Homo sapiens: one gene and its partner. The protein of the gene in region 1 interacts with the protein of each later gene in a pairwise test. Each region holds a gene or a part of one and is shown on either strand. Other genes may lie near its edges. The genes, in order: PER2 and TPTEP2-CSNK1E.

What was found.
Region 2: the proteins of PER2 (region 1) and TPTEP2-CSNK1E interact in a two-hybrid assay, tested with the Homo sapiens proteins (one large-scale study listed by BioGRID).

What each region holds. Positions count from the first base shown.
Region 1 is NC_000002.12:238,260,828-238,264,629, reverse strand, and holds part of PER2 (period circadian protein homolog 2), read left to right. Parts: intron 1-1,571; coding exon 1,572-1,678; intron 1,679-2,285; coding exon 2,286-2,439; intron 2,440-2,792; coding exon 2,793-2,901; intron 2,902-3,676; coding exon 3,677-3,802. UniProt on the Homo sapiens protein: Transcriptional repressor which forms a core component of the circadian clock.
Region 2 is NC_000022.11:38,396,110-38,400,619, reverse strand, and holds the start of TPTEP2-CSNK1E (casein kinase I), read left to right. Parts: upstream 1-1,704; 5' UTR 1,705-2,182; intron 2,183-4,510.

The DNA of each region.
Region 1 (3,802 bases):
GAAAAAAAATGTGTGGGCCACTGGCAGTAGTCACCGAAAAGTGACCTCAGAAGATACCACAGGAAGTGGACCAAGAAGCACCAGTGTGCTGGGTTCCTAAAATGAACCAGGTCACCTAGAAGCTGGAGGATCAAGACCTCTCCCTCCTCTACTCTTGGCCCAGGGACACAGGCCCCCATCCTTGGAGTCAGGGCCACACAGCTTCCTGGGGAGGCTCTATGGGTAAAAAGGGATCCGTCACTTCCAGCTCCAGGTGGCTCAGGTGTGTCCGCGGGGCTGCCTGGGGCAGAGCCAGTTTGCAGATGCAGGCTTCTGGACACCACCCTGCCCTGTGGAACCAGGATCTTGGAGGGCAGGGCCTGGGGCCGTATATGTAAAGCAGCCTCTGGAGACTTTTCTTCCTTCAGAGATCTGAGAACTGTCTCTAACCCACTCCCATGCCAACTTGGTGTCCAGCTCAGCCCTGTGCAGGGAGGTTGGCAGACAGGTTCACCTGGCATGATGGGCCACAGCCTGCAAGCTCTCCTTGATGAAGCCTTGTGTGTGGCCTGGCTCACAAAGCCCAAGGACAGCCAGGGCTCCCCCTCCTCCTCCCCTCCTTCTTTTCACCCTCCACCCCCTTTCTGCTCCCTCCTCTTCCTCCTCCCCCTCTTTTTCCTTCCTGTTCCCCCACTCCTCTCCTCTTCCTTCCTCTTCTTCCTCCTTCAGCAAGGCCTTGATGGGACGGATGCCAGGAACATTCTGTATATCCTGTCCAAAGGAAAACATGAGGCCTGAAGAGAGAGCCTCAGACAAGAAGGAGGAAATCAAAGAATAACGCCAGGCCCTTGAGAAAGTTCTGCACCATGGTCTAAAGATTCACAGGGAAAATCCTTCTACACAAGCAGCAGAGTTTGAGGAAACATTGGTTTGGATGCAACAAGTGTTAAGAGGCAGATCGGGAGAAGAAATGGTCGGTGGAGCCGGCAGAGGGCGCTGGACACAAACAGAAGCAGAAGGTGCTGCTGAAGTTCAGCTCCGTCCTGCAATGGAGCAAAGCCACAGCTCTGGGAGGAGGCATGAGCTCAAAGGGCAGAGGCCCAGCCAGCCACCGAGACTCCAAAGAAGCCACAGTAAACCAACTGGATGCTGAGGCCAAAGTCACACGAGACCAGGCTGGAAAAGAAGCACATACAAAGGGTTTTCCGAGGCCCAGGCAAAACTTGTTAAGCAAAAATCCATGCCAGGTCACATGTGGCCAAACTAATGAATGACACTGAAAAAGAAAAAGATGCTGGAAGGAAGAAAACAAAAGCATGATCATGACTTATCTCTTGGGAGGTGAAACGCAGAGCTGAAGCACTCAGGCCCCAGCAGAGGGAGCCTCCTTCAGCGTCCTGGACAGTGAACCTTCGTTTGCTATTGATTAAAAGTCTAGCTGGTTCTGTTAGTCCAACTTTTGATCTCCGGGGGTGGGGGAGGGGGTGGGGTTTGGAGTGTATCTTCTCTTTCCAGGGAATAAGATGGTTCTTAGTGACAATCTCCTCATCTGTTTGGATGCCAATCCTAGCGTGTGTCTGCTTGCCTTCCAGGGCGGTCCCTCTCCTGGGCTACCTACCTCAGGACCTGATTGAAACCCCAGTGCTCGTGCAGCTCCACCCTAGTGACAGGCCCTTGATGCTGGCCATCCACAAAAAGAGTAGGTCCCCTTTTCATGGTACATCCTGAAGTGTTTGGCGGAAGTTCCTGTGTCCTTGGGGCTGCTTCTTGGGACCAGTCTAGCTCTGACAGGTCAGATCAGCTAAGGACAAGCAGGTGGTAGACGCCCGCCTCGCCGCCTCCCTCCTGGCACTGCAGTGCCCAGTGGAGTCGAGAGAGAGGGGTAAACTCATGTGAGTTCCTTTGTGGCCAGTTGTTTCTCAGTCCGTGGCCTGAGTCCGTAGCATCTTATGTTTACTGTTGGCTTCAGTGGCGCATGGGAGGAGGGGAGACCAGTTCATCTGTGGCTAGGAAGGTTCTCACCAGGCCAGGGGAGTGCACAGTGCATGTCCTCACCAAGCCCAGCCCTCATAGATGCAAGTGACACTAGCAGAGGTGAAACATGGGATGAAACAGCTCCTGCTGGAAACAGCCTCCTGGTAATCTACAGCAAAAACAGGAGGTTGAAAGCAGTGGCTTTGAAGAAGTGTTCATACCCCTACAGTTTGCAAATGATCCTGGGCCTGAGTGACTCTTGACTTGTCTCTCTCTACTATAAATCCTGTTTGCTCCCCTTTTCCCCTGAATGCTGGCTTTTGCTCTCCTAGTCCTGCAGTCAGGCGGGCAGCCTTTCGACTATTCTCCCATTCGGTTTCGCGCCCGGAACGGAGAGTACATCACGTTGGACACCAGCTGGTCCAGCTTCATCAACCCATGGAGCAGGAAAATCTCCTTCATCATTGGGAGGCACAAAGTCAGGGTGTGAGTGCTCCAAGGGCCCGAGGTGGCTCAGGGGTCTTGGGCGGGGGTCTCGGGCTGTCCTCACCTCCCAGCAACAGATGGCATAGGGAGGGGCTGAGAGGCCAAGACCGAAACCTTGCTTCCTGCCACCAATCTGGAGCCCCAGACTGCTAGGCAGGGGTGACCTGTCCTCTGCCCCCAAGTGGGAGGGACCTCATTCAAGCAGAGTAGGGAGTGGACAGGCAGCAGCCTGGGGGGCTGCAGGGGAGAGGCAGAGGGCCCACCCAGGCAGGCAGCATGTAGTGGCTATACAGTCACGCCAGAGAGGTCCTCCTGTGGGGCCCCATCTAACAAGATGAATTAAAACCACGCAGGGGCCCTTTGAATGAGGACGTGTTTGCAGCCCACCCCTGCACAGAGGAGAAGGCCCTGCACCCCAGCATTCAGGAGCTCACAGAGCAGATCCACCGGCTCCTGCTGCAGGTGGGTGTGGTGCCTGCATGTCCTCCTCCCAGGTAGCAGCCTGAGAGCCCCCTGCAGAGGACATAGGCTCTGAACCCTGGTCCTGGCACACCCACTCAGACAGCTTCATCTGTCATTCTCTGAACATCCCCCAGGGGACAGTTTGGGCATAGACTGTGCTAGTCCGAGACAGTCCATAGTACCCTTGGCTCTCTCCAGCCTTGCATTCGACCTTGTCTGAACTGCAGCCCTGAGTGAGTAGCTGAAGGACGTGTGCAGACCCCGTGCTCTGACACAGGCTGCATAGTTCCAGAGTGACCTCTCAGTGGTGCGGGGGCTCATTCTAATCCAGAGCAGTGGGACTTAAGGGAGGGACATTGTACTCAAGGTCCCTAAAAAAAATCAGGCCCACTGCAGTCAACCCCACACCTGAGTAGGCGCCTGCCTGTCAGTTCCCGGAGACTGTGGAGTGAAGCTGTCATCGCATCTTGTTTGTTTTAAACCCATCCACAGAGGCGTGGCTGGCTGCAGCCATGCGTTGATGAGCGGGTTGGACACATTCCTTTGGTGCCGTCTCCTCGGTGACTGCATGTCTGGGTCGGGGCACCGCGGCTGGAGGCCAGGAGTCTACCTCTGGAGCTGACCCTGGGGTTCAAACCTCAGCTCCCCTGGTCTCTGCCATGTAGCCTTAGGCGGGTCGCCATCCTCTCTGCGAAACAGGGTGTGTTGGCAGGGGGCCACATGCATAGCTCAGCAGCCCTGGCTGTGTCTGTAGCGCTGTCTGCTGTCTCCCCAGCCCGTCCCCCACAGCGGCTCCAGTGGCTACGGGAGTCTGGGCAGCAACGGGTCCCACGAGCACCTTATGAGCCAGACCTCCTCCAGCGACAGCAACGGCCATGAGGACTCACGCCGGAGGAGAGCC
Region 2 (4,510 bases), on another chromosome or scaffold:
GTTCTTACTGAAACGATTATTTGTCAAAATATTTGATTGTTTCCCTATTCCCCCTGAAAAGTTTGGACTTTTCTTTTTGCTCGATTTTGACACTGGAATTTTTAACTGTCAGTGCTATTGTGTTTACAGCATTCAAGTTCTCAGAGTTCAAAGGTTATCCATTAACATGTAGAATGAGGCTACACTTAAAGGCTCAACCTGGTTGCACTTGTTCATAGTTTCTTTGTTGTGTAGCAAGGCTCATAGTCATTTGTTTTCATAAAGTTAAATGAAGTTTCTTGTTTATGAAGTGTTTTTGGACTGTGTTTTAGAATGTGACAATAAGATTAAAAAATATATTTTAAAGATAGGTATTCATCTTTTGTCAGAAAAGGACTCCTAATACTAAAAGTGATCAATATCAGTGGACTTGAGTGAAAAAAAATTCACCCAATTTAGTTTTTTAGTGCTGGCCTAAGAATCTACCGGCACTGCTAATTAATTGTGAGTAATTGATTGGCTTCCTTTTTAAAAAAGACTAACCAGACCATATGGGGGGTTAGTAGTTATATATAAAATGACAGCAAAACATGACACTTGGCAAATTCTTCCCCTTTGCTGAGCTGTCTTCTCAAATTCCTTTTCCTATTTATTAAGATTGCATTGCTCACCAGCTCCGGATCGTTTCTGTAGTGCGTTCTTTCTTTTGATTTAGGAAATAGATATTTTAAATGCTTTTCTTGATGTGTTTTAAAGTTTTTTCATTTTGGATATGCCGAAGGCCAGTAAAAAAACAAATATTTGGCTATTTTGTTGGTAGCGACTTGCATAGATCCATTTCACATTTGCATTAGTTTGCATTTTGGGGTAGAAAAATTGTGGATATGTTTGTTATGTCTGTGGTTCCTCGAGGCTTACTTAAAATGGGGAAATATCACAGGCCTTAGGAATCAGGATTTTTTTTGTCCTTTTTTTCAGTAAGAAAAAAAAAACAGTTGGGAAACGATTTAAATGAGTTGTGCGTAGGGAGGAGGGGAAAGGGTAGCGGTTTTTTGTTTTTTTTTGTCCCCGGTTTCCTCCAAATGGATTTCTATCAAAACCAAGTAGATTCTTGGAACCTAGTCTAAGTTTAGAAATCTCAAGTTAGAATAGCGCAAGCCCAGTCCTTTCAGAAAAAAAAAAATCAGAACAATTAAATAGCTTTCTGAAGATACTCATTTAAAAACTTTATCTTCTCGACCTTCCTCACGCTTGAAGAAAATCTGAGGTGTTTTTCGCGCACAGCTGCCTTCTAACCCGCGAGCAACGGCGTTAAGGTTTTGTTTGTAATTCGGGGTGACCCAGGAGTTCGGGCCGCGGGCCCCTCCCCTCGCCCGGGCACACCTTGCAGAGGAGGGGGCGGCGGGGACGGGACCCGGGTCTGCGCCTGCGCACACCCTCGCGGCCCCCCCCGCCCCCCCCGCCGGGTACCTGTCACGGCTACCGCCGCGGCGCTCGCCCGCCACGTTAAATCGGATGGCGGGAGTAGGGGTATGGGGCGGGGGGCGCGGGGAGGGTGGCACGGCGCGTGCGTGCGCGGGAGTCGCCGAGCGATAACTGGGAGTGCGCGCGCTCGCCGCTCGCTCGCGTCCCGGAGGCGGAGTCTGTGGCGGGGGGCGGAGCGGGGGCGGGCCTATGCTAGTCACGTGGGCGCGGGGGCGGGGTGGGGCGGGGCGGGGCGTCTCCGAGCGGCGGGCCGAGGGAGGGCGCAGCAGCTGCTCCCTGAACACTTTCTGACCCAACAGTCCCCCAGCGCCGGACGCGCCGCGCCCTGGCGGCTCTAGGGACCCCCCCCGCGCCTGCACTTAGCCCCGCGCCCGAGGTGAGCCCGGCCCCTAAATCCTCCGGGCGGGGGTGGGGGTGCGGGACGCTCCTTTTTTGTTGGGGGTCTTGGAGGCGCGAAGGCACTAGGCGCCTCGGCAGATGGCTGCACCCCTCGCTTGCGGCTCCCCGTGTCTTTTGGGGGGCCGGGTGCGGGCGCGGAATCCGGGAGGTGTCCGCACAAAAGGCCGAGAAAACTGCGCGAGGCCTCCCTCCCTCCGCCCTCCCCGCCCCCTCCCCTCCGCGCCCGCTCCTCCTCTTTCAAACCCGGCCGGCCCGAGTGGAGTCAGCTCAGTCCCGGCAGCCGCCGCGCGAGGAAATGGCCGAGGGGCCGGAGCCACAGGTAAAGGGGGGCGCCCCCCGCCCGCGCCAGCCGGGGCGCCCGCCTGGTCCTGCGGAGGCTCCCGCGCCGCCCCCGAGGCGCCCGGCTCTCGTTGTCTTGTCCCCCCCCAGGATGACCTCAGTTCCCCGTCTCAGCTTTCTAGCTGCTCTTTCTAGGGCGCCCCCTCCCCAGCCGGCTCCTGCGCTTCCGCTGGCGGGAAGGTGCGGGCGATCCCGGGCTGCATCCGCTCTTGGCCGTCACACTCACGCCGCACGATTCAGAAGGGCTTGGGGTGCGGGGTTCCCTGAATCTCCGCCGGGAGCGGGGGTCCGGGGGTCTGCGGGGGTGGGCGGTGGGGGGCTGTTCCGAAAAGTTGGGTCGCCCCGCGGGGCGGGTCTCCCAATTTGCCCAGTCGGCCCTTGGGGCGCGGGCGGAGGGGGGACGTTGGCGTAGGGTCCCCCGCGATACCCCGGGAAGGGCCGGGGGAAGTTGGAAATGGCCAAAACAATGCGTCGGGACAGGCTTCCCCCGTAAACAATGGCCGGGACGGTCCACACGGGCCAGGCGGAGGGCGCGTCTAAGGGACCGCGGGAGGGGCTGGGCCTCTCCGCGGACCCCGAGGTGCGCCGGGTGACTCCCTCGGGTGCCCAAAAATCTGTCCCCGGGAGTCCTGGGGCGCCTGCTTATCCCTGAGCAGGGATGCACGGGGCTGCGTTTCCTGGATGTGTGCGATAAGGTGGCTTTTTTTTCCCTCCTCTAATTTTAAAGATTTTTCTTAAGTCTTAATGTTCTATAAACACTTAAAGAATATCTTTACAACTCAATTGTAGTGGAACACCCAAAGGCAGCTGGAAGCAGAACTGGGAACTCTAAAGGGCAGGAAGGATTGAAATGCTAGCCCAAAAGTGCTGCTGCTTTTTTTTTTTTTCTTTTCTTTTTTTAAAGGGAAGTTTCTGCCAGGAGGTGCCAAGTGGTGAAACCGCTCAGTTTCAGGCACAGCCCTCTTGTCTCTCGATTTGGCCCCGACTGCGAGCCGGACGGGATGGTGGAGGGGCGGAGGGCGCTGCTGGGGGCCTGGGAGGCTGGATTTAGGGCTGCCTGGGCGGTACCGCCCGAGGGGCAAGACCCGACAGCGGGGCGCGCGCCGCAACGTAAGTCCCGGGGATTTGAGAAGACGTTCAGGGCCTGGGTTGGAATCCACATTTTGGGATTCTGGGTAGGGCCACCGAAGACGGGAAGGCGCATTCTTGGGCGGATGGGGTGAGCAGGCGGGGAGTTTTCCGCCAGGTTTAGTTACAGGAGCTAGAAAAGGCCACTTCTGGGACCCTGGCATCTGGGCCACCCTGAGAGCCCCAGAAACTTTTTTTTCTTTTTCTTTCCCCCCCACCCCCCAGAAAAGGATAGTCATTTCAGGTTTAAGGCTTTGGTGTATTGTTCCACTTCGAAATTCCTTGAGCCTCAGTTTATCTTCCTGAATCAGCCTATGGTGCTTGCAGCGGAGAAAGTAAATGGCGGTTGCAGTGGTCCACTGGCCAGTTTGGGGGTCCTGTATAATTGGCCACTGTGTGTGTCAGGCCTCTGAGCCCAGGCCAGGCCATTGCTCACACAAAGCTTGTTTGGTGGTCTCTTCACACGGACGTGTATGAAATTTGGTGCCGTGACCCCAACCCTTAAGAAGGTTGTTTGTAATTCTCCCCACCCTTGAGAATGTACTTTGTGAGATCCACCCCTGCCCACCAGAGAACAACCCCCTTTGACTGTAATTTTCCATTACCTTCCCAAATCCTATAAAATGGCCCCACCCCATCTCCCTTTGCTGACTCTTTTCGGACTCAGCCCGCCTGCACCCAGGTGAAATAAACAGCCATGTTGCTCACACAAAGCCTGTTTGGTGGTCTCTTCACACGGACGCATATGAAAGTGTGTCCTACAGCGTAGCTAGGTTTCTTAGTTTTCTAGATCGTTTGGAAGCATTAAGCTGTATGTTTTAAGAAGCCTAGGTCTGATTTAGTTCAGATTGATTCAATAATGTCTTCATCGCTTTTGAGTTGGTTGAATGACTTGACATGAGATTAAGCTCAACAAAAGAAAAGGTGAGGTAGCAACAGCTGCCGTCCAGGCCTGGCCACTAGGTAGGGGTCTTAGGAGGCCTTTTACCTTCTCTTTTGTATATGTCAAGAGGGACATTTACAATGTTCTTATTTTACTGTACTTCTTTCCCCTGAAGTGGATGTTCTTTCTTGATTGATATCAAACAAGACTTAAAATGCTAAGTTTTATGATACTTAGACAATGAGTAATAGATGTAGTTTCTAAAAGCCTTTATGTGTCTGCAGTGACAAGTGCAGA